Regions from separate parts of the Homo sapiens genome. Here region 1 is linked to region 2. The links come from fine-mapping of genetic effects on gene expression. Tissue or cell type: lymphoblastoid cells. Region 2 holds a variant in brackets; the other region holds the start of a gene. All regions are shown on one strand. Distances are from middle to middle. Region 1 holds the start of WRNIP1 (WRN helicase interacting protein 1). Region 2 has its middle 33 kb from the start of LINC02521.

The links. PIP is the estimated chance that this variant, and not a neighbour inherited with it, causes the effect.
Region 1: WRNIP1 starts here. The variant in region 2 is fine-mapped to the expression of WRNIP1 in lymphoblastoid cells (GEUVADIS, PIP 0.92).

The regions. Positions count from the first base shown.
Region 1 is chr6:2,757,668-2,773,663 of GRCh38, reverse strand. It overlaps WRNIP1 (WRN helicase interacting protein 1), which reads right to left and starts at 8,271. Exons shown (of 7, transcript NM_020135.3): 1 at 7,220-8,271; 2 at 4,782-4,973; 3 at 3,303-3,544. The coding sequence starts at 8,041. It also overlaps a transcript of MYLK4 not described here. RefSeq lists silencers at 7,351-7,670, 7,841-8,300, 8,461-8,510, 8,891-8,980 and enhancers at 8,435-8,729, 8,827-9,706.
Region 2 is chr6:2,593,717-2,609,712 of GRCh38, reverse strand. No RefSeq gene overlaps it. Among named protein-coding and RNA genes, the nearest start is that of LINC02521, 33 kb to the left of the region's middle. The variant G/C (reference allele first, on the strand shown) is at 7,359.

The sequences.
Region 1 (15,996 bases), 160 kb before region 2:
AGCAGCACAAGCTCATTCTTCGTATCATGAATCATGGACATTTTTTTCCTGGCCTCCAAAATTAACCCAGAGCAGACAGAATCTTCACTGTTTGTATCATGTGATCCAAATATTTTTGGGAGAGCAAAATACCTGAACACTACTGCTTAGCCATACAAACCAAAGCAACTATGGCGTAGACAATGAGCTTTCTATTTCACTCAGTTAAATTCTGCTTATCCTTCAAAACTCAACTCCGCATCCCCTCATCTAGGAGGTGAAATACTGGATTTCACATATTCTGAATGCTGCTTCTCTACGCCCACTGCACTTGGCGTATAAGCGTGGCACTGGAAGTGGACCTGCTCCCCTAGCCTTCATCATACTGCGCTCCCTCTGAAGGCACAGGAACAAGCTTTTCAACCCTCAGCCAATGCCTAGCATATGCAGGAGCTTCAATTTTGACTGAATAATAACTACAGGAGGGAATTTTTTTTTAAAAAAAGAACACTTATTTCACTTTAATGGGAATTTATCACTTACATGAGTATACTGTGTGACAACTCACAATTCCTCAAGTGCAATCAAGAACGGCTAAGCGGCAGCTTGATTAGTTTCCAAATCCAGTGCCCTGCTCACCTCCTCTCACGTGCAGTTCAACAGCCTGGGACTTCTCTGTAAATGTTCTAGTTGCTATCTAGGGCACCAAAACATGACACAAGAATACAAATGCACACCAATAGCTTCCTGGAGAGAGAAAGTAAGTATATGGGGTTGGAAGTCTTTTCTTTCAACTAGATTAGTGTCACCAAATCTGATTTATATGCACAAGGATGTATATAGAGCTGTCAACAGGGATTGGAAAGCAAAATTTTACCTAAAACAACTAAAAGACATCCCAATCCACTCTTAATTATCCCTGACAGTTGGGGTGGCAGGTACTTGTATTCGGAAATCACTTGTAAGAGTTCTTTCTGTGGCCTATGATATCTCCTAACTTAACTTCTTGTTAGAATTGCTAACAAGTTGACCAATTAATGGTTTTAAGCTTAACATTCTTTCATTTTACTCTGCTTGCTGCTGATGAAAAGGGCAATAGTATTAAAGAAAAAGGCTCTTGATACCTGGGTAATTATCCCTTATGCTGGATAATGCAAAACATATTAAACTACTTTTCTCATATCGAAAGCTAGGATTTATTCATTTCCAAACCATTCACAAAGCACATAATGTGTGCCAGGCACTGTGCTGGGGATATGAACAGGGACAAGCTCCTGTCCTCACAGTCTTCCCAGGAAAGCGGGGGACACAAGATAGCAAATATAATTGGGATCAAGTCTAAGCAAGCGGTAGTGGAAATAGTAAATCATTTACTGGATATGGGAAGTTTTCTCTGAAAAGCAATTTTAGCAGATAAACAATCTCTAGCTCATTGTTATATCAGTTTCAATAACTAAATCTTAATTATTTCACTTGATCTTCTCAAACTTTAATGTGCCTGCAAATCACCTGAGGATTTTTAATAATAAAATATAGAAATTCTTCTCACAAGGATGAGCTCCTTGGCTGCCGCCTTTCTCATTTCCTTTAAATTCCTGCACGGCAGTGACTGGGGAGAGGTGAAAAAACCTGAGGGTATCTGAGTAACAACTGATTATTATTGACTTCATGTCATCAATATTAATTATTGATTTCATGTTCTATTTCATGAACTGATGACATGAAATCAATAAAAATCACCCCAGACAAGTACACATGCAGAATATTAAGTTGCAGATACATTACGATAACCAGTACACAGAGCAAAGAACACACAGAAACATGAAACATGTTAGGATTTCCCCCCTTTTCTTTCAATTTGTCTTTACCATGTGGTTCTATGCGTCTGTAATGAGAATTCTGTTACGGGAAACCTACACATGAGTATCCCACATCTGAAGTGCCTGGGACCAGAAGTGGTCTGAATTTCCTATTTTTTTGATTTTAGAATATTTGCATTATATACTTACCAGATGAGCACCCAAAATCCAGAAATCTGAAGTGCTCCAATAAGCATTTCCTTTCACAGCATCATGAAGGTGCTCAAAAAGCTTTAGATTTGGGAGCATTTTGGATTTCAGATTTGGGATACTCAACCTGTACTACATATGAGGAGCTGGCAGCCCCCTTAGGCTCTGACAAATGCCCACCACATAAAGCACTTCTGAGTATGAGTCCATGTGGCTGATACCACAGGTTCCACACACTGCTTGTGGCCACAGATGTAATGGCTATCCCCATCACAACGGTATTCCAAAACAAGGCCACTCTGTCCTACCCAGTGGTCCACGGGCCAAATGTTTCAATGCTTTCATTAGACACAGCAGAATTCTCCCTCCATCTCAGACAGGAGCAAATGGGGCCAGACACATAGGGAGAGCCTGGTGAAACCTAAACCCTGAGCCTAAACTATGCCTTGTACTTTAATCCTCACAGAAAAGTGGCTCCAGAACTTGGCCTCAGGGCAGGCACGAGCAGCTGCAGAGTCCACAGCAGGAGGAGGTGGGCAATAGCCTCTCATCACACCAGATTATGTTCCATGGCAGTATTTCAGCCAACGTATGAACAAATACCATCTGAAGAATATGTTCTAATATTAAAAAAAAGGAAAACCCCTGACCCAAGAAATCAAATTATCTATGATATACACTTGGTGCATTAACGAGCTCATGTGGTACTCATGATGCAGAAATAGGTCACTAAAAGGATAGGGACAGCCTATAATGTCATATTCAGTTAACATTCCTTTACTTTCATGAAACTGAGTTTCAACTACACAAAAAGGATTACATAATTTTAAGGTTACAAGTTAATTTTTACTTGATTTTTTTTTTTTAACAAAATGCTAAACTGCAGGTTAAAAAGAAATTGAAACATGAGTACAATGCTCAAAAGAGTTGTATGGTAAGTCTAGAAAGTATTTATCTATCTATTTGTTCTATTCAATGAGGGACATAAAGCCTTTCAAATCATCAATAAGGCTTCCCATAGAAGCCTAAGCACAAAAGCAAACACCCAAGAACCAAAACAACAAAGCAAAGTTAAAGCTTGAAGAATTATAGAAACACATATTAGAGGCTGGAAAATGCATCTTCAAGTGTGCAGGGATAACTTTGTTAGGTATAATCGAACATTTCCCTCCTCTTTTATTTTCATTACGGGCGGATCAACATTTCTTCTCTGTCCCCACCCTCTCCTCACTGACGCCCGGCCCTTTCTGGCCCCCTGCCAGGAGACTCTCTGGGAGGTGTGTGCCCCCAGGACGCTGCACACTGTCAACTTACTCTGAGCTGCTGTTGCTGCTGTGGCTCAGAGGGTCAGTGGGACGGCTAGAGTCTAGGACGTGGATTCCCAGGGAGTTGATCGCTCGCATTAAAATAGTCACCATTGCCTCTACTGGAAGCTTCTCAAGAACAATCACTCGACAGCGGCTCAGAAGAGCAGCGTTGACCTGGAAGGAAGGGTTTTCAGTGGTTGCCCCAATCAGAGTGATCGTCCCACATTCCACGTGAGGAAGGAAAGTGTCCTAATCATGGGAGGAAAACAGAAAAAAGTGATTCCAGTCAACAGCCACCTGCAGAATCCTATGTAAGTTGGCTATCCCTTCCTTCCTTTTCCTCATTTTTATCTTTCGAGTTCAGGAATAGCAGCAGCCTTATATTCACTGAATATAGATGCAATATTTGGGGGAGTACAACTCTTGCTTTTAAGTCTGAAACACATCTTCTGGAATGCCCGTCCAAGCCTGATCTCTTGCTGGTAGACTAATAGCTTTAAGTAGAATTCTAGCTTAGTTTCAACATAAATGATTTCTTTACTCAGAAAACCATCTTCTACCAAAGGCTGAACTGGCACATAGCTTATATGTAACAGCTATTTATTTATAGACAAGAACACACAAAAACATTAACACTTCCAGAATCTTCTTCCACAGCAAGCACTCAATCATATTATTATTATTCCTATTATGCTGTTTTATGGGGAAAAAATACTAAGATGAGTCAGTGGTCCAATATGAAACCTAGAATGCTAACGCCTCGTCAGAACTTTAAAAGGGTCTTTTTATTCAAAAAGGTTCAAAAAAGGCTCAGTAGAGTTTTGTGAAATATTCTATGTATGATTAAAAAGTTACAAAAAAAAATTTTTTAAAGTTATGCCTAAAAATTTAATTTTTTTTTATTTAGAGTATAGCTCTCAGATCTCAGCCCAATAAAATTTTAATGTTTATTTTTTTTTAAATCCCTAAGTGGCTTTGTTTATAAAAATAGCTTGTGTCCTTTTATTTCAGAAACCCATTTAAATAAACAGTAATCATTAGCTCTTCCAACATTCACCTTGAAGACAGAGCCTGGAGTTACAGAAAATACCGATTGTTTAATTTTCAAAATAAAAATACTGTTAAAGTAATTTTTAAAAACCCATTAAAATAATGACCTTAAAATCATTATTTTACTGTTCACAATGACTCCTAGTATTTAGATTAAAAATTCCTAAAACTGGAAATTTGATTCAAAGGTGCTTTTCTGATACGTATAGCTCAGGGATATGCCAACCATTTCATTTATCAGATAGAGAAAGCATTTTCTTGTTATCAAAAAACACTAAGAAATGTATGGAGAAATAGGCTTGAAGGAGATGGGTTCACAAGCCTACGCTTCTTTGTAAACAAAGCTCGTAAGTCTCTAGCGTTTGTATAGTGATCTCACACACTTTATATTGTTTGATGTTCACAACGACCAAAAGGTAGAAGGAAGTTAATATACCTGCTGAGATTTATTGAACCGATGAATCTCATCAATAAAAAGGATGGTTTTCCTTTTGAAAAAGCTCTTTTCATTTTGAGCTTGTTTTATGACATCTCGCACATCATTTGTCTTGGCATTTGTTGCAGATAATGTCACAAACCTTATGCTATGTTTCTTGCTGTTGCTGGCTATGATGTGAGCCAGAGTGGTCTAGAAAAGATGACATACATGGAGTTTGAAAAGCTGGTAAGACACAGAGAGACCAGCACCCATGGGAACCACCACACGCAGCATCACTATTTACCAAAAGCAACTTGACCTCGGAAGAATGCTGAGCAGCACAGAAACAATCAAAAATACCACAGGACATTTAAAAACAACAACAACAAAAATATTATAAATAAAACAGGAAAGTAGCTAAACCTTAGGCTAATCCTGACCTTTTCTCCTCTGTCCCTAACCACCTTTGATTCCTTTTTGGGTGACTCTTTAAGATCTTTGGAATCCCAGTAAAGAACGGCTGTCTTGATTTAGCAGAGTGACAGCTGTGACCTCTCACCAAAGAGAAAATTCTCCCTCCTCTAGCCGAGACAGCACGGAAGGATCTAGGTGCAGAACTCATCGCAGAACCACAGCCCGAACTGGAAGCTCAGGACAGCTGAGAAAAGGAGAGTGAGGGAGCATTTGCCTTGAGACCAATGACATCCACCTAGCATTTGAGATGACTGTAGGCCACTTCTGCATGTTCACTCTGGTAGGAGATGAAGGGCAGCACTGTGGTCACATTAGCAATTACTAGAAAACCAAGGAGACCCAGGTAAAGCACTTCTTGGGTCCTCAACAAATATGTATATGCTGTTATTAATATGAATGTTGTTATTAGTACTAAAGGATGAGAAGAAAAACTGAAGACTGTTTAATGACTGTGACAAATCTGCACCTAAATGGAAAGGTGGTACTTTCTTTTCTAAAAGTTGTAGAGCACCCATTCTGTGGCTGCTTCTTTCAGAAATCCCCGCCTGCCTGCCTTTTGGAATCAGGCTCGCAAGTCACAGATGCCTAGGCTTGCAAATGACCAACGCCCATCTCACTGAGCAGCCTGGACCACCCAAACCTCTTGCCTGGCATTTGGTAGGTGGGATGAGCTCACCCACTCGTCTCCCTAAGGACCTTCTTGCTGTCTGGGGCCACCAACAGCTGATTATCCATTCTCATGATCTTATGTAAAGACTTCACAATTACTAAGAATGATACTGCTCAATCCCTTAAATGGGGTTAACAACTAAATCCATGGGGACAGACGTCAACAACTCGACCACCATCATCATAAGATGTTATTTGGGATAGATGTGGTTTATTCCTGGCCAAAGGGAAGGCATGAGTGCAAACAAGAAGGCACAAAAAGGGCAATTCATTCCAGGAACTGGAGTTAAAGGGGGTGTGCTTAAGTTGTGGGAGATAAAGCTAGAAAGAAAAATAGGAGAAAAATCATAAAAGCCTTGTGTGCAAACGAGTCTGAATCTCAAAGCTACAAGAACTCTTTACAGTTTGATCCCTGAATTCTCCCTTTCCCTTCCTGATGCTGGTTCTTCTCCCTTATTATGGATAAAAGCATCCTGTATTTAAGCACTTCTTAGCTTTCTCTGTTTTCTGGCTCACCTCCTCCATTTTTTTCTCAAGTGTTTTTCCAATGACATGCTTTCTAGACTCACAATATCCTAACTGCCCTCATCTGGAACGCTAACGCCTCACGAAGGGACACAGAACTGGACACCAAAATGCACGGATGTTTCTTCTCTAGAGTACAAGGCATTATGAGAAAAGTTACGGAAATACCGGATGAAAATGACTTGCAGATGAAAAAGTTTTTATGTTAGTTTTGTAAATACATGAGTATATTTAGTAAAATCAATATATTCTCAAGAATATAAGAATGTTAAATAAACTTATTCTTAAGAATAAATACCAGTCTGTTAAACCAACAACTAGTGGAAAAGGAAGGAAGCACAACAGAATTAATTTGATTTTTTTCAAAGCTGAATCCGTTATTATGTACAAACGGAATATACAAATGTTTCTTTACAATTTAAACATGCTGATTCCTTGCGAATTCGGTTACTAAATCAAAGTCTGGGGAGGGGGCGGGGAGACCGATGGAAGATAAAGGCAGATCAAATCTAAGAGTCCACATCTTGTAAAACTATGGATTCACAGACATCGTCCTTTTGCAAACCCGGCAAGCCTGCCTTACCAATCTGGGGGTGTGTGCCCTTTTCACACCCATCACAGACTCCACCTGTGGACCAGGCACTGCCCCAGCCCAGCCCAAGTCTGCACCCCCTTATCCAGGAGAGGCAGGCGGCTTCTTTCGAGGGCAGCACACCCGGCTCTCCGACCATCAGCTGCATCCACCGCCGAGATAACTACGGAAGCCCAACGGCCAAGGCCGCACTCACCTTGCCGCAGCCCGGCGGCCCCCACAGGATAAGCGAGGGGATTTCGTTGGTCTCCAGGAGCGAGCGCAGCAGGGTATCCTGGCCCACGGCCTTGCTCTGCCCGAAGTAATCCTGCAGCGTGTCAGGACGCATCGTGTCGGCCAGCGGCTTGCCCTGTAGCATCTGTCGGATCTCCTCGGCAGCCAGCGCCCGGGGGTGCGGGCGGCCCCCGCCACTGGCCCCGAAGGCGGTGGCGGCTTCGGCAGCGTCCGCGTCCCAGTGCCCCGGGTCGTCCTCGCCGTCCGCGTCCGCGTCCCCGTCGCCATCGCCGTCGCCCACGGCCTCCTCCTCCTCCTGCGCCTCCGCCTCGTCCCAGCTGCGCGGAGACGCGCTCCCCGCCGCGGCGGCGGCCGCCGGCCTCTTCCCCGACCCCTTCCTCCCGGGGCTGCTGGAGCGGGCCACCGGGAAGTCGGGGATAAGGCGGGCGCCGCTGGGTGTGGGCGGCGCGTCGTAGCTCTCGCGGCTCTCGGTCTCGCCGCCGTCGTCGCCCTCCTCACCCTCGCCCTCGCTGCTCTCGGCTGCCGTCGGGGTGGCTGGCTGCTTCAGCGCCGAGCTCTCCGACAGCCGCCGCCTCTTGGCGCCGGGCGGCGAGGGCCCCTTGGCCCGCTCCCCGGCGCGGTGCGACCCGGCCGCGGGCTCCGCGTGCCCCGCCGGGTGGAGCAGCAGACAGCGGTCCAGGTGCGAGTTGATGTGCGCGGCGGGCATCATCTGCTGGCACACGGGGCACTGCACCTGGTGCAGCTGCGAAAGGAAGGGGTCGTCTTCCGGCCCGCTCACCTCCATGGCGGCCGCCGCCCTCCCCGGCGCCCGGCGCGGCCGCAGCAACCCGTGCGCACGCGGAGGCCTTCGATGCCCTCCGCTAGGCCCCGCGCCGCGAGACCCTCGCTCGGGGAACCAGCAGGACGCTCGCGGGCCGGAGGAGGGCGCCGCTCATGCCTCACGTCCGCAGCTCCCGCGTCCGCCCGCCCTCGGCCGGCCGCTGGCAGCGCCTCACGCGGCGTGTCGGGAAGTGTAGTTCGTGGCCGTTTGCCCCGGCGGCGGAGGCGCCTCGCGCGGCATGTAAGTAAGTGTAGTCCGTGGCCGTTTGCCCCAATCACCGCCGAGAATACCTCGCGCGGCACTTCGGGAAGTGTAGTCCGCGGCCATTCGCCCCAGCTGCCGTGCGTCCATTTCCGACTCTGAGAACAGCCTTTGCGGGGGCGGGGGAGGGGCGGGGGGGGGGGTTGCGAGGCGAGCGTGGTGCGCGTGCGCGAGGTTGCGCGGTGGCGGACGCAGCCCTCCGCCCAGGCCTGCGAGTCGCGCGAGGGCAGGGAGGAGCCACGGACTGCGCGAGGTTGTTGGAGCGGCGAGCGCCGCTTTCCCGGCCTTCCGTGCTGGGCTGTTGAATGGGCCTGTGGGGACAAGCAGGAGGCGGCCGCAGCGGGTCGTTTGTAACGAAAGGGAAATGGGGGAAAAAACCCAAAAGCCTCCAATAGAAAACCAGTGTTCTATTGGACGTGAACAGCAGAAAAAATACAAACAAGTACGCGAGTGAAAGAAATGCTCACCTCAGTAGTGGTCAGGGAAATGAAAATAAAGCGTCCCTCGCCCCCTTTTAGATGTGTTGGCGTTTAAGTCAAGGGCGGTTCACCTACAGCGCGCTTCGAGCCAAGAGATGCTTCTCGCGGGCCGCTGTGTAATAGTGGCAAATCGGAAACACCAGCCTTCTGTCTCCTTAGCAACCAAATGATGGGAGGCGCCCGTGTGCAATTACGTCCTAGACGGATAGAAATGGAAAGAATATCAGATTAAAACAAGTGTGGTAGTCTGCATCTTTGAATGAATTACCATGTTATTTTTTGCTTTTGTCTAAGTCTCCCGTTTTAAAACATGTATCTCAAAACAGGCATTTTTGGTAACTAGAAGAGGTAAATGAATTGAGGGAGAATGAAGACTTTTCCGAAATTTGGCCAAAACTTGAATTTTTATTTCATCTGGGCAAGAGCACATTGAGGGTCTCACTCGTTCTGTCGCCCAGGCTGGAGTGCAGGGCCGCGACCAGAGCTCACAGCCTTGAACTCCTGGGCGCCCGGGACCCTTCCGCCTTAGCCTTTGGAGTCGTCCTGGGGTTACAGGCTGAGCCACCACGCCTGGCTGGCTGGTTAAGAGTTGTTTCTAACTAAAAAAGTTAGGCTCAAAAATAAGATTAATAGAAACGCTAGAGAAACAAGTTAAACTTTAATCATCATGTAACGTGAAACTACCAAAAGAGGATCGTGAGCTTTCATTATTTTTTTGAGACGCAGTTTCACTCTTGTCCAGGCTGGAGTGCAATGGCGCAATCTCAGCTCACGGCAACCTCCGCCTCCCGGGTTCCAGTGATTCTGCTGTCTCAGCCTCTCGAGTAGCTGGAATTACGGGCGTCCGCCACCACACCCAGGTAATTTTTTTGGATTTTTAGTACAGACGGGGTTTCTTCCTCGAACTCCCGACCTCAGGTGATCCGCCCACCTCGGTCTCCCAAAGTGCTGGGATTACAGGCATGAGCCACTGCGCCCGACCGTGAGCTTTTTTTTTTCATTTGTCCCTCAGCAGTGAGAGGTGACAGCATTCTGGCAGCCCTCTCAGTCCTCGCTCGCTCTCAGCGCCTCCTCTGCCTTGGCGTCCACTCCGGCCGTGGTTGCGAAACCCTTCAGCCTGCCGCTGTACTATGGGAGCTCTTTCCTGGGCGGGCCAAGGCCGGAGCTGGCTCCCTCAGCTTGTGGGGAAGTATGGTGGGAGAGGCGCGGGCGGGAACCGGGGCTGCGCGCGGTGCTTGCGGGCCAGCGCGAGTTCCGGGTGGGAGTAGGCTCAGATAAGCCTCGCGCTCGGAGCGGCCTGCACCACCGGCCCAGGACGGTGAGGAGCTTAGCACTTGGGACAGCACTTCTCGCCAGGCCGTAGTTGCCTCCACGCAGCGCAAGGCTCAGGCCTGCCATGCCTGAGCCTCCCCCCAACTGGGGACTCCTGCGCGGCCCAAGCCTCCCTGAGAAGCGCTGCTTACTGCCTCACGGCACCCAGGGCCGTTCACCACCCCAGAGCTGAGCAATGCAGGCTCATTACGTGGGACTAGCAAGCAACTCTATACTGCAGCCCCAGTTCAGAAATTAATGGGAGAAGCCAACTGGGTTTCTGAGTCTGGTGGGGACTTGGAGAACCTTTATGTCTAGCTAAGGGATTGTAAATACACCAATCGGCACTCTGTATCTAGCTCAAGGTTTGTAAACACACCAATCAGCACCCTGTCAAATCAGACCAATCAGCTCTCCGTAAAACAGACCAATGGGCTCTCTGTAAAATGGACCAATCAGCAGGTTGTGGGTGGGGCCAGATGAGAGAATAAAAGCAGGCTGCTAGAGCTGGCGATGGAGACCCGCTTGGCTTTCTTTTGCTTGTGTGGGTGTTTTGTTCTTTTATTTTTTGCATTAGCTGGTGTTTGGGTCTGAATTGTCTTAATGAGTGGTAATACTCACTGTGGAGACTTGTAGCTTTATTTCTGAAGGCAGTCAGACCACAAACCCACTGAACCCACTGGCAGGAACGGCTAACTTAAGAGATGCTGACCTAAGACCTCTAACGGTCTCCGGGAAGGTCTGCCAGTTGATTTCTGAGCCGGCGAGATCAGGAAGCTACCAGAAAGAAGAAACTCTGCACTGTGTTTAAGAACTGTTAACAGTTTCCGTGAGGGTCTATGCGTTTATTCATCAAGTTAATGAGAGTAAAAACTCATTGACTGCGAGCACATAAGGATTATTGCAGGAGCATCACAGAAGTGAATACTTGCAAAACAAGTTTTAGGGCTGATCTCAAAGCAAGGTTTTCAAGAAAAGTGTTACTAAATGTGGAAATACAGTACACTGATTTTAAACATTTATAGAGATAACGTGGCCACATGATCAATTAACCCATCCAAAAAATTTTAAAATGGAAACAAATTTCTTGAATCTCTTAATATAAGGCCTAAAATTTCTTTTTTCAGAAAATAATGCTGTGGAAAATCTACAAGTCTACTTGTAATCATTGTTAGTATTTTGGTACCTTAAGTCTCTTAGGACGTGTTTCAAGATTAGACAGTAGAGTTGCATATAGACCTAATTTTACGTCCAACTTTATTGTTAATAGGGTTTTCAAAAGTATTGTCATGGGAAACTTGTGTACTATGGGAGTAAAAATTAAGAGAGATAGAATTAATATAAACTCCGGTAATCCCAGCAGTTTGGGAGGCTGAGGCGGGCGAATCACAAAAGGACAGGAGTTGGGGACCATCGTGGCCAACATGGTGAAACCCTGTCTACTAAAAATACAAACATTAGCTGGGTGTGGCGGTGCGAGCCTGTAGTCCCAGCTACTTGCAAGGCTGAGGCAGGAGAATTACTTGAATCTAGGAGGTGGAGGTTGCAGTGAGCCGAAATCACAACACTGCATTCCAGCCTGGCGACAGAGCGAGAATCCGTCTCAAAAAATAAAAACAAAACCTAATGTATATAGTATAATGCCATTTCCTTTTTCTACTTGTGCTTTTCTATCCTATATTATGTAAATAATAAAAAGGAAAAATACAAAGCAAAGATTGTGTGTGTGTGTGCATGTCTCCCACAGCTACATACATGGATGAAGTTGAGCTATTTGGATGACCTATGAGGTGAAAATGACTCTAGACCTTGACTTCAAGAACCTGGGTTTTGAGCTGTCCATAGTGTGACCTTGGGCAAGCTACATAACTTCTCACACTCAGTTTCCAAATCTAAAGGAGGAATAAGAATGCCTACCTCACGGTCTGTCATGAGAATTAAGTGAACTTGTCAATGTGAAAGTATTTAGTAAAGTGCCTGGCACCCAGTAGGTCCTGTAGTAATATTTTTTCCTGAACCCTAGTCCCCTCTGTCTGAAGTTCAAGGTTTTCTCCACTAGGTGGTGATGGTAGAAAAATAAATGAAAAAAACGTACTTCAAAAATCACCCCTCCTCTTAGATTGCTTTGCCAATCAAATTTAAACTTTCTTTTCAGATCAGCATAAATACAAATAAATTTAAACTCGTATAGTATAAGGTCCCAGGAAATGAAATCAATGTAAAGCAGAAACCTAGGCTTCCATTTTCTCCTTTAATACCTCACTGTTTAATTGTCTGCAGCTGGCCTCGGTGGTTTACTTTTAAGTGTGTAACTATCTTCTCTGTCTTCCTTCCCCACAGTCAGAATGGGGAGGATAGATTCGGTGGTGACTCAAATAGACCTGTCAGTAACGACAAGTAGAGTCAGCCTGGCTGCAGTGCCTATGAGCAGGTATTTTATAAGCCATCTACTACTAGTGAACCTTTGGGCATGATCTTGCGCACCTTCATGTTCATACCTAAGGTATGCTGGACAGTTGAGTCCAGTTAATCCCACATGACTCACATCCCTGCCATCTTTAGTCAGCATCTTAAAAGTTAGTCGTATGGTTATCTATTCTTCCTACTCTGATTACTGCCCCCTAACCCAAACTCATGTTCCTCTCTCTTCTTGACTTTCCACTACATCTTCTGGAATCTATGCCACATTTCGTATTGTTTATTCTAACACATTTTATATATTTCCTTACTATTGTAAGTAGAACCTTTTATTTACTCTATTTTCTTACTGCCCTTTATTGGTATGAAAGAAATGCATTGATTTTTTGTTAATTTATTTCATACTTGGCCTTTTTGTGAACTCTTATTAGTTTTAGGTGATTTTCCATTGATATTCATAGTATAAAAAGGAGTATATACAGCCTTTCTCCCTGGCTCCTGGCAGAGATCTTCAGAATCCCGTGGGATTTCCTGAGTGCTAGGAGTGCCTATATAATGCTAATGAAGCAACTCCTAGTGGCTCCCTAAGGTTGGAACTTGGGACCAGCTCAATCTCAGGGGCTAGAAATTGAATTTGATTGCTTGGCCAACAATTTAATCAATCATGCCTACACAATGAAACCTCAATAAAAACTCTGGACATAGAAACTCAGTGGAGCTTCCTGGTTGTGAACATGATGATGTGCTGGGAGGGTGGTGTGCCTGGATTCTACAAGGAGAGGGCTTGGAAGCTCCATGTCTGGGACCCTCCTGCCCCTCACCCATGTGTCTCCTTTATAATAAAACTTATAAAACTATGCACATACTCCCATATATTTTAAGTCATCTCTAGATTACTTATGATACCTAATACAATGTAAATGCTATATAAGTAGTTATTATACTGTATTGCTTTTTTATTTGTATTATTTTTTGTAACCTATGCACATATGCTCATATATTTTAAATCATCTCTAGATTACTTGTGATACCTAATACAATGTAAATGCTATATAAATAGCTATTATACTGTATTGGTTTTTTATTTGTCCTATTTTTTATTAATTGTACTGCTGTTTCTTATTTTTTCCCAAATTTTTGATCCACTGTTGGTTGGATGAGAAGGTGCAGAACATGTGGAAATGGAGGGCCAACTGTATTGTCAAATTATTGGAAAGATCAGTTCTCTGTATCTTATAAAGTGGAATGTGAAAGGACATTTGACAAAAGTCTACTTCAATCATTGATTTTTAAAAATCTCTAGTAAAATAGAGAAAGTTATCTTCTTAACATGATGATTTTTGTTTTTGCCCTCAAACCAGCACCATTATCATGTTGAATGGTAAAAACATCATTGATGAGGGGAAAGGTTTATTTTTTAAAAAATAATGCACTAACCGTAAAAGGAAAAGATTAATACATCTTACTACATGAAAATGAACATCTATTTATTTAGCAGAAGATACTACAAGAGTGAAAATACAAGGAACAGAAAGGGAGAAGACATCTTAAACACACATTACTGTCAAGCACAGTGTGTAGGATGTAGAATAAGTCCTACATAATGATAAGAAAATAGGAGAAAATGTAATTAAAAGTGAGTAAAGAACATAAATATGTACTTCATGAAAAACAGAGACCAAGTGACCAAATATGTATTTGAGAACATCTTAGCTGGGCACAGTGGTTCATGTCTGTAATCCCAGCAGTTTGCGAGGCCAAGGCAGGAGGATCACTTGAACCCAGGAGTTCAAGACCAACCTGGGCAAAAAAGTGAGACCTCCATCTCTACAAAAATTTTTTAAACAATTAGCTTGGCGTGGTATTGTGCACCAGTGGTCCTCACTACTCGAGAGGATCACTTGAGGCCAGGAATTCAAGGCCACAGTGAGCTATAATTGTGCCACAGCACTCCAGCCTGGGTGACAGAGTAAGACCTGTCTCTAAAAATAACAACAAAAGAGAAACCCTTCAACTCTTTAGTAAGAGAAATGAAATTTAAATTTATAAATGATATGCTATTGCACACCCAATAGATTAGCAAAAACTAAGTGTTTTTAAAGCTATAGAGCAACAGGAGAATTCTTATAGTGCTGGTGGGAGTGTAAACTTGTGTATACATTTAAGTGTGTGTACTTCATGTGTGCACATTGGTGTTCATAGCAGCCCTAAATGGAAAACAGCCAAATGTCTCCATCAGTGAATAAACACATACATTTTGTAATATTCATACAACAAAATATTATATAATAATGAAAACTAAAGACATCTATACACACTATATACAACAATATGATGGGTTACAGACAGTTTTAACTGGGAAAAAAACTAAGAAAATAATACAAACAGTATGAATACATTCAAACAAACTAAAACTGCCAAAACGAAGCTATATATTTAGAGTGCACATGTAAATGGTAAAATTGCAAGGAAAATCAAGGAAATTATTGAAAAGATTTAGATTAGTGGTTAGCTTGGGAAGGACAAAAGGATGGGATTTTTGAATTTGGGGATTCTTGACCTGGTGGTGGCTTTATGAGTATTGCTTTTATAATTATTTATTAAATAGTGTATGGTTTTATATACTTTCCATATGTATATCTTTCAATAAAAGATACATATATCTTTTATTGTTATATATCTTACATATTATATGTCATGTATACTTATAACATTTTTGTTATTTATATTATCAAAAATATGTATTTCATATATACATATGTAATATATATGTAATATATATGTCCTGATAAAAGAAAAAATATTATAAATTACTGTGACTTCATTTCATAGTTGTTAAGGCCCTGGTATACAATAACAGTAAGTGATGTTACACTGTTGATTAAGAAAACTGAGCTACTCCAGAATATTTTTCGTCTTTAGAATCTTGGCTCTAAATTTTTCAGCCAAATAATCTTTTATTTCTTAGGAGATCTGATAACATGAATAACAATAATATTACCAATGATAACCATAAAGGCTATTATTTATTAAGTTTCTCTAATGCATCAACCATTTTTATCTCATTGTTTACCCCTCAACAACCCCATAAGGTAAATGTTGTTATCCTCACTTAACAAATAGGAAGCACTGAGTTTCGGGAAGACTGAGCAGCTCTTGAGTCAACACAGCTAGTAGAGCTTGAACTCAAGCCTAGGCTGTGTGTCTCCAATGCCCATGACTTTCCCACTAGGCTGGGAAATTTATTTTGGCAACCTTTTTACATTAAGAAGGAAATATATGTTTATTTTAGAAAAATGGATAACTCCAGGAAAGCACAAACCATATTTGGTATAGCAATCTTATCTATTTAGCTATGGATCTCTGTATTATCATTCATCTGCTATGTATTGACAGTGCATCTTTCTTTAGTTAAAATTCAGATCCTATTGCATCTACTGTGCCCGGATC
Region 2 (15,996 bases):
AACTACACTGCTGTTATTCTGACATTTTTAATGCCACTGCTTTTCTTTCAATCCTCAGACATGTATTCATCATATTAAGAGTTCAACATATCAGATCTCCCGGCAGCAATGGTAAGAGTGTGGGCAGTAAAATTTGGCAAACTAAAGGGAAAAAATGTATCTTTCACCATTCAAAGAAACACCACAGCAGCTCGACATTAGATTTATGGAGTTACCCTACCTGCTTTTCCCCAAAACTTAATGAAACTTTTCATAGGTCTTTCCAACACACAAGAAGCTGTTAAGAATTCATGGTCTATTTCGCCTCTCAGAGAGCCTAACAATACATATTCCCTTTTACATTGAATGTTGAGTGTTTTACTTTTCTCCACATTCATCCTCTCTCCAAAACTAAACCCTCTGCCCCTCCTGTGGCTGGAAGTGTCTGCTCTATGGGTGACCTCTCAGCTACAGCCTCAGTCTCCTATGGCCTCCTCCTCTTCCTGCGTTTTATGGATAGTCTGTCTGTTCTATTTTTTTAAATGCTGCATAGGAAAATCTACATCTGACCCCATCCTTCCAATGATTGCCTAGTTCCTTTTAACAAAACTTTTATAAGAGCGTCTATTCCATGCCATCTCAAGAAATCTGTCTTTGATTCACCTCATCCTTCAGCACACCAGACAGGTGTTGGTGTTTTGGCTTATATTTATTCTACGCCTATTTTCTCTCTAGTCTTGTGTGAGTCTGGGTGTCCCTCTAGCCTGCCCAGATGACTACTATCATTCCAAAGGAATAATATTGCCCCTGCTGTTGCCCCAGATTTTCTAGTGCCATGCTACATATACAGTAAATCAGTCAGACATTAGGTTGATAATTCCCATGGGCAGGCAGGCAGGCAGTCTCTTCCATTCACTGCTGTACCCCTAGCACAGTAAAGGGCACATGGTACACCCTTGACAAACCAATAAACGACTAGAGACATGGGTACTCCATGAGCACATACAAAGAGACTACTAGGTCACAGAGCTGTGTGATGAGCTCTGGGTTCTAAGCCAATTTTTACTGGATGCCAAAACAATCATTCCGTTTAATCAAAAACTCAGCTAAGTAAATAAAGTAGCTTTGGATGATAACTCAAAGTATAAAATAAATAACCACGAACTCATACGGATATCAACAAATGATTGAAAAAATAAATGAATTGAAGAAAAGAGACAAATGTTCTGTGCAGAAAATTTCAAATAATTTCTGTAGATACTCTGCCCTCAAGGATGGGGAGTATTAACTCCCCACCCCATAAATGTGGGCTGCAGATAATGACTTCCTTCCAAAGAGCACAGTATGGAAAGTGGGGACATAGAGGAACTTTTCCTCTAGGTGAATGTATTTGTCGAATAAATTTTTGGAAAAAGAAGTTTGGGTCAAAGGGCATTTGCATTTATAATTTTAGTAGGTATTGCCAAATTCCCATAGAAATTGAAACCAATATATGTTCCCATCAGCTTTTTTTTTTTTTTTTTTTTTTTGAGATGGAGTTTCATTCTGTTGCCAGGCTGGAGTGCAGTGGCATGATCTCGGCTCACTGCAACCTCCACCTCCCGGGTTCAAGCGATTCTCCTGTCTCAGCTTCCCAAGTAGCTGGGACTACAGGTGTGCACCACCACGCTCAGCTAATTTTTGTATTTTTAGTAGAGGTGGGATTTCACCATGTTAGATAGGATAGTCTCGATCTCTTGACCTCATCATGAGCCCGCCTTGGCCTCCCAAAGTGCTGGGCCCTTCAGCTTTTAATAAATGTCTTTCCTCTACTCCATTGCCACCAGCATATTAACCTGTTAGGTTTGTTTTTTTTTTTTAAACAACCTGGGAGTTGGAAAATGAAATCTCAGTATAGTTTAATTTGCATTTTAATTATCATGAGTGAGGCTGAGTATCTTCTCACCTATCTAAACTTCTGTGATCTTGTCTGGAAAGTGTCATTTTCCCAATAGTTGGTCTTTTTTCAATTGACTGTGGGAGCTATTTAGGTATCAGGTATTCTTTGACGTTGTATGAATTAACAAGTACTTTCCCCATTTGTTGCCTTACAAAGGCCACTATAACATGGAATTTAGATGTATTGCCAACTGACTGTGTTGGATCCATTTAAACACTTTGTTTTTATAATTAAAAGCCGTTGGTAACACATACTGTTTCATCTCCTGAAATGACTTGAAGAACCATATATTGAGATATAAATATAAATGTTATTTTGATTCTTTTGGTAGCAAATAAGTAGGATTCACCCCCCCACCCTGCTCTATTTTGTAGAAGTTTTATTAAATGCCTATAATCCTATTCATTAATTATAAAAATAGAATAACAGATAAATTTAAATATTTGCTCTACATAAACCTATTTTGAATACTCTGGCAAGATCTAAAGCTTGTTTACTAAAAAGCCTTGGTAAAACCAACAAATTATACATACCTCATGAATATAGTTTTCAAGAGTTTTTTGCTCCACAAAAAAAGATCTGCTATTAGGATTTAATAAAATTTTACTGAAAAATATATACTGCCCTTTCTGGGATTAAGCAAGCACCTGGCTGCTGGCTGACACTTCAGGGGACATCAGCATCAGCTCTGTTCTCCGATGTTGTGTGTGGCTGGGCCTCCACCCCAGAGCTTTGCAGATACACAGTTCAACAGCGATGTTCCCAGTAGCTCGACACCAGAAAGGGACAGTGATGGGGCCTGTTCCGTCACATCACGGCATCTCACCTGCCCTCCTGCTCTCTACCTGCATCGAGGAGTCTCAGAGAATCCCACATGACATGAACCTTGAAGCCTCAGGGGTAGGCCCTCCAGCCCCTGAGCAGAGGCCGCAGAGTTAACGTTTTGAAAGTGGTTTTCTGTTGCTAAAAAATGTGTGGTTTATCACAGCCCTAAAAAATGTCCAATGATTGGGATTATCCCCCTTCTCCTTTCCTGTGTGCCTTCAATTAGCTGAATGAAAGCAAACCCGTGGCTTTAGAACCTGAAATAGCTGGAGAAAAGTGATGCAGATTTCAGGCGAGATGAAAGAGTGGAACCCAGAAGCCTAATTAAAAGCAACTGAGAAACCAGTATTTGATACGGCGTTCACTCACCTGAAAAAATAAACCAAGAGCTCCAGCAAGCTTTGCTGGAGGGTTGTCGGAGAGGGGCTGAGACGTTGCACTCAGGTCACAGGAAGGCCCGACTCGCAGGACACAGAGCCTCACTATTTCTTTCCTCTTGGAGTCAGGGGAAGGTCAGCCAGCCCGCCGAGGCCACCAGCCCGGCCTGCTTGACAATAGCCAGTTAGCCAGCAAAACTTTCCTCCAAGGTGGCAAGGGTGACAGCTATCCATCCCCAAACGCATTGCTTTTTTAAAAATCTTGAAATGTGCATGATTTGTTCAACATCACTTTCCCCCTGATTTTCCCTGCTTCTTTTTCTTCTCACACTTCTCTTCCTCCTGCTTTTACTACTCCCCATGTCATCTTTCTTAAATGCAGGGCATTTCTGTACATTCAGCTTATGGTTTGTTTTTGATGGCAGAAACTATCAAGGACTCACTGAAAGAATTAGTCCTCCTTTACCAAGAGGAAAATTCTCTTGGTTTTGAGATAAATCAAGGCCCAAGGTCAGTCAAGGGAGGAAATAAATAAATGAGCCTCTCTTTCATACATTGCATATTTTTAAACCTACAAATCAGCCCCCCGAATGGAATGCTGGCATATAAAAGCAGCATTTGGGATCCCGCTAAATGCAACTGCCATCACGTCCAAGATTTTAGTTGGAGGCAAGAAAAAGGACTTAATTTTAATTGCTGGGGGAGACGTCCTTCATTCTTTTCCTTTCCAAGTTTGATATTCATGACCTTGGGTAGGATGGGAGGTGGGGAATGTGGAAAGATGGATATGGGGTCGCGGTGGTTTTATTACTGTAAGTAACTGAAACAACAGCCCCGTTTTTGGAACAGTCTGTTCAGGAAGCAGAGACTAGATGCTTCCCCCTCAGTGGGGTCACAGTTGGCTTTTCTTGACTTCACGCGTTGTCGGATGGGATCCACAGTGAACTGAGGTTATCAACACCGAATAGCAGCTACCATTTCACATTGCAGGATGCACTTCAGAAACCACACACCAGCGCGAGGATCTCACATGGACATTACTGTTGTTATCTCTTAAATGCTTTGGGAACACCAAGGACCTCTCACTTTGTTGGGTATTGTAGAGAGGTTTTATAGGAAGTGATGAAAATATGGCCTTTGTCTGTAAGGAGTCAACCATCTTAAAGTAACATGTTTATATAAACACAAACATTCACCGTTGTTCCCAGAGTTCACTTAGGTTGGTCATCTTCCTTCCTTCCCTTCCTTCCTTCCCTTCCCTTCCCTTCCCTCCTTCCCTCCCTCCCTCCCTTCCTTCATTCCTTCCCTCCTTCCTTCCTTCCTCCTTCCCTCTTTCCTACTGTTTCTCTGCCTCTCTGTGTATTTTCTTCTTTTCTTTTCTTTCTTTCTTTCTTTCTTTCTTTCTTTCTTTCTTTCTTTCTTTCTTTCTTTCTTCCTTTCTTTCTTTCTTCTTTCTTCCTTTCTTCTCTCTTCTCTTTGTGTCTCTCTCTTTCTCTTTGCCTCTCCTTCCCTCCCTCCTTCCTTCCTTCCTTCTTTCTTTCTTCTTCTCTTTCTTTCTTTCTTTTCTCCTCCATTCTGCTTCTATCTTTCCTGACCTGGTTTCCCATCATGAAACTTCTCTGCCTTAAGCTTAGGGCCAGCATTTAAAGATCACCCTCTGTACAGTACAAGAGGCTATTTGCTTTGCCAAATGATTTCTTGCTTCTGTTTACTTTGGGGACCTCACAGACAGATTTAATCAATTGCATTTATCAGTATAATCTGTTCAAGGCTCCTCTCCTGCTGTATTGTTTTCCCTTTTACCCCTGATTTCCTGGCTATCCCCCTGCTTCTACCCCCAGACCCAGTGTAAGGTGTTTTATACAAGTCCTCAAATAACCAAATAATCATGGATTTTTTTACATAACATATTGGGCTGTTTTGTATGTGTATGTGCTTTAATTTACATAAAGGGCATTATGGTGTACATTGCATTCTTTTTCTTACTTTTCCCACACGTTCTGTCCATGTTGATGCAGAGAACATCACAGTGCACACAGGCCACATGGGCCTCTGCCGTCACTCCACATGCATGGCAGTGGCTGGCTATGGGAAGGGACTTCCTTCTAGAGAGACAAGATGGAGAAATCAGAATTATTGGTCCCAATTGGGCCAGCTACATAAAACAGCAGGTGATATGAGGGCAATCTGTGTAATTTTTTTTTTTTTTTTTTTGAGACAGAGTCTCGCTCTGTTGCCCAGGCTGGAGCGCAGTGGTGCGATCTCGGCTCACTGCAAGCTCCGCCTCCTGGGTTCACACCATTCTCCTGCCTCAGCCTCCAGAGTAGCTGGGACTACAGGCGCCCCCCACCACGCCCGGCTAATTTTTTGTATTTTTAGTAGAGACGGGGTTTCACGGTGTTAGCCAGGATGGTCTCCATCTCCTGACCTCGTGATCCGCCTGCCTCTGCCTCCCAAAGTGCTGGGATTACAGGCGTGAGCCACCGTGTCCAGCCCAATCTGTGTCCTTGAATAAATGTATCACCCTGGTGGGAGCTAACTGAATGCACTTGGGACCCCTGCCACATGCCCATGTGGCTCCCCGGAATTCCCTTCACGGCAGGTGCCACAGGCGTAATTATACCATTATTGTGGTGCTCATTGGTGAACATCTGAGAGCTCCTAGCGGACGGGTCTATGTTCCCTGGTTCACTGCTGCATTCCCAGGGCCTGGCTTAGCGCCAGGCTGATGTGGGAGAATCACTGGAAGCCAGGAGGCACAGGTTGCAGTGAGCCGAGATCATGCCACTGCACTCTAGCCTGGGCAACAGAGTGAGACTCCGTCTCAAAAATAAACAAATAAATAAAAACAAAAACAAAAGAGGTGACACTAACTACTCATAAGTCATAAGGTTGTTTCAAGGATTCTTTGCAGCCTTTTATGCCACTCTGGCTGAGTGTTGCCATTTTTTATTGGGCCCCCAAAGTGGGAGTCTTTGTCCTTAGATTCTGACATCCCTCCAAGCATGACACCCCATTTACATGATGCCTTCTTTTAGTTCCCCAGTGTCCCCTTTTCTCCAGCAACCGGAGGTGTACAATGTTGCCCCCAAAAGATCCTTTCCAGTAGACCATCATCAGCACCCCTGACTCCCCCTCACTCTGGTCTTGCTGAAGCTCTCTCCTGGGAAAGGTGGATTCTCCGATCAACTCTACAGGGAGTTTAAAAGGGCAAGCTCTGTGGTGACCACCTCCGGGCTTATTTCCTTGGGATGAACTTCAGGAAGTGAATTGTTGGCCAAAGAATCTGTCTTTTACATACTGCTTGCAATAGCTCTTTATATTTAAGGACGCTGGTTCTGTATCTGGAATACATATGGCAGGTATTTTTCTGCTTTGTGAAGTGACATTTCATTTTGCTCAGGAGATTTATGGAATTTATCACATGCAGTCAGAGATACTGGTAATTTAGTTTACAATCCCCGACTTCAATGTTGTTTTTAGAAAGGGCCGTTCAAACACCCAAATTATATAAATATTTAGCTAAATTTCTTCTACTACTTGTAAGGTCTCATTTTTAACACTTTATCTCTTTAATCCATCTGGAATTTATTTTGATATTTGGAGTAAGGTAAAAAGCTTAATTTTTTCCAGATAGGTAAGTAGGTTTCCTGGTACATTTAATAATCTTTCCTTTCCTTGTTTATACGAAGCGCCAAAGTTATCTTATATTAAATAATGATATGCACTTGTGCCTGTTTCTGGATTTTTGAATGATCTTTCTAAATCTGCTCTGTCTCTTTTTACATTAACAGAAACCTGTTTTAACTATGTAGCAAAATACACATTAATATGTAATAATAAAAATACACTCATCATCATTTTCAGGTATTGTTATTAATTTTTCTTAGTTATTCCTCCCAAATTATTCCTCAAGTTTAAATTTGTAATCACTTTTTAAAGTTAAAGAAAATATTGGGGTTGTGATGGAGATTGCATTAACACTTTACGTTCCATTTGAGGATAATTTACATGGATGTACTATATCTTCTCACTCAGCAACATGATCTGCCTTTCCATTTTATTGCCTTTTTTTTTTTTTAATCTTAATAAAGTTCTTGGCCAGGCACAGTGGCTCACGTCTGTAATCTCAGCACTTTGGGAGGCCAAGGTGGGCAGATCACCTGAGGTCAGGAGTTCGAGACCAGCCTGACCAACATGGTGAAACCCTGTCTCTACTAAAAATACAACAATTGCCC[G/C]GGCACAGTGGTGGATGCCTGTAATCCCAGCTACTCAGGAGGCTGAGGCAGGAGAATCACTTGAACCTGGGAGGTGGAGGTTGCAGTGAGCCGAGATCGCGCCGCTGCACTCCAGCCTGGGTGACAAAGTGAGACTCAGTCTCATAAAATAACATAAAATAAAGTTTTTAAGGCTTTTTTCTAAATAAATACCTTCTATATTCCTCTTAAAATAAGTTTAATTTGTAGACAGTTCACATTTTTAAAGCTATTGTGAACATTTTGCAGTTCTGTTTAACATTTTCAACATATTTCTTTTTCATAACTCTCTGCTGCTAGATGCCTCATTACAAGAGCTAATTGTCCTAAAATATTTTAGGCAATGTTCGACTCATTTGTTAGTATCTGTGAATAGCTCTGAATTTCCTTATCCCTGAGGACAATTTTCTGTCACTTCACCAATATTTACTCCTCTGTCTTCACCCTGTTGCTTCTTGACAACAGTAAATAGGAGTGGTCAGCATGAGCCTCCTCTTCTTAACTTTGATAGAATTGGCTCTAACTGACACCATCAAGTATGATGTTGGCTGTTGGTTTGAAATATTCTTTATCATATTAAAGAAGTATCCAGTTTTGGCTTTCTGAAAGTTTTCATTCTGAAAGGATGTTGACTTTTACCAAATGCCTACAGTCTATCTGCTAAGACCCTTAATGGGGGCATCCTGTGTTCATCTGCTTTGATCAGAGACACAGATTGATTTGCTGCCATTAATCAGCCTTAAGTTCTAGAATAAACCCTACTTAAGCGTGAGTTTATGCATTGATATTCAAAGTTTAGATTTACTTATAGATTCTTTTCTTTTTTGCTCCTTCTGCCAGTAAAATTACCTGATGTGACTTTCCTATTTCTACATGTTTTTAAATTATTCATTATTATTATTCCCTAAAAGCTTAAAAGAACTTGCGCATAAAAAAAGTGGTTTATAGAACTTTTTGAAGCAATTTATTTGACATCTTTTCTCAATTTCTTCCATGGTATTGGTCTGTTCTAATTTTCTATATTTCTTTCTTCTCAATTCAATTGCATTTCAATTTCCCATTTTATTACCACAGAGTTATACATAATTCTTTTTCATAATATAATTTTCAAAATGTGAAGGCTTATTTCTGCCTCTGTGTTCATAGACATCTCAGTCTGTTCAGGTTGCTGTAACAAATCACCATAGAATGAGTGGCTTATAGACAACAGGAATTTATTTCTCACAGTGCTAGAGGCTGGGAAGTCCAAGATCGAGGTGCTGACAGATCCTGTACCTGGCGAGGGCCCTCTTTCTAGTTTGCAGATGGCCATCTTCTTGTTGTATCCTCAAAGGCAGAAAGAGAGATAAAGAGCTCTCTGGGTTCTCTTGGTAAGGGCACTAATTCCATCATGAGGGCTCCTCTCTAATCACCTCCTAAAGGCCCCACCTTCTAAGACTATCACCTGGGAGGCTAGGATTTCAACAGGTGAATCCTGGGGGATGCAAACCTTCAGACCAAAGCAATAGAGGACATGGCTAACATGAAGAAGAATGAGGGAAGAAGGTAAGACATCTCTCCAGGCCTCAGTGAGATGCAACCCTGTGGTGCTGAGAAACCTAAGGAGCCAGAGGGTTCTAGTAGCTCAGCCCTGTGTCTCGATTGCTCACAATGAAGATGGGGAGGTGTATGCTGTGAAAGCCACACACAGCTTGGTGTAGCCAGGTTGGCCCAGGGTATGCTGCAGTAACAAGCACAATTTCTCACTCACGCTCCATGTCTTATCTGGATTACAGACAGGCTGTGCTCATCAAAGTCCCCCAGGGTCCCAGGCAGACGAGGCTCCTACAGTTATCATTGGCCATGGACAGGATGTAAAGAATAGTGGCCTGACACTCACAGCTTCTGCCCAGAAGCAACACACACCACATCCTCACCTCCATTGCCAAAGCAGGCCTGTGGCCATAGTTAACTCACAGAGGGTGAGGCACAAACCTGCTCTGCACTGGAAGTGAGAGCAACAGCACCAATGACTACCACTGGCTCTGAAAAAATCAGCTTCACCTACTCCCTCACGTTGCCGGAGCAATGTCCACCAGCTTAGACTTCTGCGGTTCACAATTTAACCCCCAAAGTGAGTGATGTAGTATGTTAAGGTTTCTGGAAGAGAAAAGGAGAAATATTTTGGGGGGAGTTGGGGTGGATGTTGCCTTTTCGTGCTCATCAAATCATTCACCAGAAGTGACTGCTGACTTTGCTGGGATGTGGCCATATAAGAAAGGACGCCATGACCTTGGGTAAGCATGAGAACCATGAGCTAATTAAAGAGCATTTCCAACTGTCAACTGGTGGTGTCATTATAGGAATTATTCATTGCAGTTAAGGACATCTAGAGCTTTCCCAAGATGGGGTAGTACAATGGTGAATTACATGTGTCAACTCGGCCAGGCCGTAGTACCCAGTTGTTTGGTCAATACCAGTCTAAATGTTGCTGTGAAGGCATCTGTTAGACGTGATTAAGATTTGAATCAGTAGACTGAGGAAAGCAGATGACCCTCCATGATGTGGGTGGGCATTATCCAATCAGCTGAAGGACTTAGGAGGAAAGGCTGAGGTTTCTGGAAGGAATTCAGTCTGACCGCTGCAACATCAATCTCCTAACTGAATTGCCAGCCTGCCTGCCTGACAAACTTCAGACTTGCAGGGCCCCACAACTGTGTGAGCCAATTCCTTAAAATAAAATTTCTTTCTCAATGGATAGATAGATTAGACACAGAGAGAGAGAGAGAGAGAGAGCAAGCAATCCTATCCGTTCTGCTTCTCCAGAACACCCTGACTAATGTAGGAGGCCCCACAAGAGGCAATTATTTCTTGTTTGCAAGGCCACTCAATAGAGATGCTGCAGAAGAAGTGTTTGGGCATTTCTGGGGTAAAATTTGGTAAATATTAAATACTCTGTCCTCAGAAGAAACCCATACACCCATCCATTGTATGTGCACACACTTTTGCTTATGATATTAGTGAGTTCAGTCTCCCGGAAGCTTATTCCCACCCTTTCTGACTAACATGGAACTGTGATCCTCTCAACCCTGCAAAGTTATTTTGTGTCACTGAACCATCAAAGAACCTTCCTTTTCATAGTTCTCCCCAATCTCCCATGACTTTGTTGCCTCATGCACCACACACAGAAGAGATGGGTGTGACCATGAGCGTGGGGAGGTTGAACAGTGCTGGCGTTGGACACAGGGCAGGAGCAGTGAGGGGCAGGCCCACCTGCAGGGGGCCCTGCAGTCAGCCACACACGGCGCCACTCCTGTTGCGGTCATGTCACCCATGCCACCATTGCTGCTGTGTGCCTGTGTGGCTGCCCAGGTCTGTAAGACAAGTAAAAATGATCACCAGGACAAAAGAATGGCTTAAAATATTTCCACTTAAGAGAAAACAAAAATAAATGTCAGGACCAATCCTACCCATGGACGAGGCCTTCAGACACAGAGGCCACCAAAAGCTAGCTCCTCTCCCCAGCACTTGGCTCAGATAGGCCCTGCCCAAAGGGAGCGCATGGGCACTGAGGAAGGTCCGGTGACCCCCAGCGCGCGCACACACACACACACACACACACACACACACACACACACACACAACCTGTGGCTGTGTGTGGCTGGGCAGTGGACACTAAACTTAGGTTGCCTTCTCTTTGAATAAATACAGTGTTTGTGCTTCCACAAGAGTTAGTTCAAAGCGTCCTCAAAGAATCATCCTAATATTATAATGCTCATGAAATCCAAAATGACAGACCCACTTTTTTTTGTTCATATTCAGACAAAGAACAGAAAGGTGAAGTGACTTTCTCAGAATTAGAAGAGAGTACTGAGAATAGAACTGTGGTCTCCTTGCTCTAAGTGTAGAATTAAATCAGTCTCCGAACCTGACGTATAACTGGCCCTTGTGTGGACTTTTTGATCCCCTCTAATTCTCTAATGTGTGTCTCAGAATATTTTGGATCTGGCTTTATTTTCTTAAAGCAGTAAAGGACCTCCTTATGTTTCCATTCACTTTATTTTAACAGCATTTTTTTTTCTTTTAATGATTTTTTTCCCCCGGAGCTGTTTCTACGTGGAGGAAGTGCGGTATAGCATCTAGAGGAAGCCATATGTCTGTGGTCCATTTTCTTTGACTGGAGAGACTGAGTGGTCTCAAATAAAAAAACACTGCTTGCCAATTGTCAGGCAGGCAGGTCAGGTGATGAGGAATTGGGGTGAGGGGCTGTGGTCTCCGTGGCCCCTAATCCCTCTCTCTCCCACAACCCCTCCCACCCATAAGGGTGTAACTCTCTCACTGGCTTACATGGAGCCTGCATCTCTCCAACATAACACTTCTCACAGTTGCAATAAAACAGTTGTGTGTGTAATTAATGGTTTAATACTTGTCTCATGAAAACATGACCTATGCAGGCTGGCATCATGGGCAAAGAATCTGTGCAGCCGCACAGGGTCCCTGAAGGGACCCTCACTGGATTTAATGCTCTGCTGTTGCTGTCTTGAATTTTTTTTTTTTTTTTTTTTTTTTTGAGGTGGAGTGTCGCTCTGTCACCCAGGCTGGAGTGCAGTGGCGCTATCTTGGCTCACTGCAATCTCCACCTCCCAGGTTCAAGTGATTCTCCTGCCTCAGCCTTCTGAGTAGCTGAGATTACAGGCATCTGCCACCACACCTGGCTGATTTTTGTATTTTTAGTAGAGATAGGGTTTCACCATATTGACCAGGCTGGTCTCAAACTCCTGACCTCAGGTGATGCACCTGCCTCAGCCTTCCAAAGTGCTGGGATTACAGGCATGAGCCACCATGAAATTCTTGAAATAAGCCTGTCTTTAAATTCTTAGCAATTTTTTAAGGGCCCTGCAAATCAAGCAGCCGGCCCTGGACCTAAGTCCGTCTTGTCTTTGTTGTGTCCCGGGCTCAGCACCGTGTGGACAGCAAACACACAGTGATTGTTAAAAGTTGTTACTGAATAAACTCATGAAGATGAGCAAGGACAAACTTGGTTATTTCAGTTAAGGCCGATTCTGGAAGAGGGGAAGATGAGCAACGCTTCCAGAGTTCTCAGGAGGCTGACTCTGACATGGGGGTTTGTGTATGAGAATCCTCAGGGAGTCCTCAAGCATTGGCCAAGGTACAGGTTGGGTGATGCAGTCACACAAAGAGTGCCTGGGCCCCCATGCAGGCTGGCAGGGCCCTCGGGGTGGCTGGGGCTCAGTGACCAGAGGCAGGTTGGCAGGAAGGAGGTGTGCTTCCCAGCAAGGCGGCCCTCCAGCCTGGTGCAGTGGTTCTCAGCCGGGGTGATTCTGCTTCCTGGGGACATTTGGCAATGTCTGTGGGCATTTTGGGTTGTCATGACTTGGGGAGGGCTTCCAGTGGGTAGAGGCCTGAGAGGCTGCTGAGCACCCTCCAATGCACAGCTGGCCCTCCACAACAAAGGACCACCAGCCCTGAATGTCATCAGCCAAGGGCAAGCCTTGCATGGCTGGGCCTTACTTCTTCCCAGACATCTGAAGGCAGCATTTCCATGAGCCTGGTGGGCTTGATTTCCTGGGGGGAAATGTGTAAAAGGACAAACCACAGCCCCAGCCACTGCAAAGGGTGGGAAAGCAACAACAGGTGTTCCCCATTCCAGGATTCCCCATGCTCACCGGGCACCTTTGCTGGCCTTGGTGGCTCACCTAGTGGCACCGTCTCTCGATGCCAGCCCTGAGAGGGGCTGTAGAGCCCTGTAGAGCAGCTGGAGTTCATTTCTGGCTCACACTCATGCACTGTGTGATCATATCTCAGCATTGCTCCTCCTTCTTGAGCTGGCCAGGAAGGACCCCTCCCCATAAGGGTCTAGAGGTGCTTGAGGGAGAGGCACTGCTGCCACCCAGTGGGCGGCCTGGGGTCTGGGCACCTGCCCAAGTGGCTCCCCCATGCCTCCAGCCTTGCACACTCTCATGTTATGATGGATGACTTGGCTGGGCCCATCCAACCTTACAACCTGGGGGGATCTGAGAGAACTTAGCTATGATGGGCAGTTCTGGCTTTAGGGTCACTTGGTGACACAACTTTGGCACTCTACCAGGGTCTCCTAGCTTACTGGGAGTTGTTTTCCATGACGTGTATAATTCTCCTCTTCGGGTGGCACGGCCCTGGTCTAAAGCCCTTGGGACTATGTTGGAATTCTCCTACTGGGGCTTGTCATATATTCTATGTAGCATCTTTCCCCACAGATACCCCCATACCACAGAGTCTGCAAGGTTGTATGGCTAAGTGACACTTCCTTGTTCCACATCTTGATCTCACTCCACTCAAAGCTGACATCCCTTTGCTTTTCTTGGTATAATGGATTAAACTGTCCGCTCCATGCAAAAGAGGTATCCAAGTCCTAACCTCTAGTACCTGTGAATGTGACCCTAAAATAGTCTTTACAGATGTCATTAAATTATGAATCTTGAGATGAGATCATTCTGGATGTAGGGTGGGTCCTAATATAATGACAAATGCCTTTATAAGAAAAAGGAAAGGGAGACCTGAAACATATAGAAATACACAAGGAAAAGGTCACATGAAGATGGGAAAGGGAGATCTGAAACATACAGAAATACACAAGGGAAAGGTCACATGAAGATGGGGGCAGAGATTGGAGTGCTGCTTCTACAAACCAAGAAATGCCAGGAGCCTCTAGAAGCTGAACGGAAGGATCCTTCCCTAGAGCATTTGGAGAGACCATGGCCTTGCCAACACCTTGATTTTAGACTTCTGGCCTCCACAACCATGGGAGAGCAGGTGTCTGTTGCTTTAAGCCCCCCGTTTGTGGTGATTGGTTACAGCAGTCCTAGGAAATACCATAATACTATATGGCTAGGTATGAAGGATGTTGTCTCCATGGCTTCTCAGGTGCTATGCCTCCTTCATGGCGGGAGGTGTAAGAAGCAGTAATGTGTCTTTAACTTTGGAGGGATGTCCTGGCATTCCCAGACTGCTGGATCTTATAACTTTTATTGATGTGGTGGCCTCTAAATTATCATGGAATTTATCTCCCACCTCATAGAGTGCATGGGTCTTACTATAGCATCCAACATACTTGCCATATCTTGCCTATCTGCTCTAATTAGCAAGCAGTCATCAGCACAGTGGGCCAGTGTGAGTTTCTGCAGGTGTCCAATGTCCAGGCCTCCCCAGGCTATATGATCATAGAGGATAGAAGAGACATCATGGCTCTGTGGCAGAACCGTACGTGTGCAATCTTGTCTGATCCAAAGGAATGTGTATTGTTTCTAATCCTTTAGGCATAGAAAAGAGGATCAATGGCTGTATTGTTAATCTGCTTCTGCAAGATGCCACATCTGGCACTGCAGCTGCACTTGGGGAGTGCCTTGGCAGAGTTTGCAGTTGTTCACTGCTGTCTTCCAAGACCTGTCTTGTTCTTCTGGGGAGTGACTGGTGGGTGACATGGAGATTTGATAGAGGACTATTAATTCCAAGTCCTTTAGGTTTTGAAGGGTGGCACTCATCTCTGCCATCCTCCCAAATGCAATACTGTTTCTGACTTGCTCCTTTCACTGGGGATGGGCAGTTTCTGAGGGTTCAGCTTGGCTTTTCCTGCCCTGATAGCCGATCCACAGGCCCATGAACCAACATGAGAGTTGTGCCAGTTATGAAATATGTCCATGCCAATTATACACCCAGGGACAGCGAAGATGACTACGGGGTGGGTCTGTGGGTCCTGTGGACTCCTGTAGCCCAGACCTGTGCCAGGACTCCACTTATTAACTGGCCTCTACATGCCCTGCTCCATCAAGGTAGCAGTGGGGACATAATGACATTCGGGATCCCTGGGTATTAACATCAATTTGGGTCTTCTGTACAATCATCCTCAAAATAGTTGGGCATTCCCATTTCCCCAGTGTTCAGTTGTCTGAGTGAACAGCCATAGCTCCCTTTACAGAAGGACAGGAAATGATTATACACACTTGTCATGGTGCTGTAGGTTTTCATCCCATTGGCCTGGCCCTACTTCAGTCAATGAGTGCAAGACTAGAAAGCAGGCAAGGGGATCTTGACACTCTCTTTTTTTCTGAGATGGAGACTCACCCTGTCTCCCAGGCTGGAGTGCAATGGTGTGATCTCGGCTCACCACAACCTCTGCCTCCTGGGTTCAAGCGATTCTCCTGCCTCAGCCTCCTGAGTAGCTGGAATTACAGGCACCCACCACCATGCCCGGCTAACTTTTGTATTTTTAGTAGAGACAGGGTTTCACCATTTTGGCTAGGCTGGTCTCGAACTCCTGACCTCAAGTGATCTGCCTGCCTTGGCCTCCCAAAGTGCTAGGATTACAGGCGTGAGTCACTGTGCCTGGGCTTTTTTTTTTTTTTTTTTTTTTTTTTTTTGAATCAGGGTCTCACTCTGTTCACTCTGTTGCCCAGGCTGGAGAGCAGTGTTGCAATCATGGCTCACTGCAGCCTCAAACTCCTGGGCTCAAGCAATCCTCCCACTTCAGCCTCCCAAATAGCTGGAACTACAGGTGTGTGCCACCTCACTGGGCTAATTTTTAACATTTTTTGTAGAGATTGGGTTTTAGTATGTTGCCCAGGCTGGTCTTGAACCCCTGACC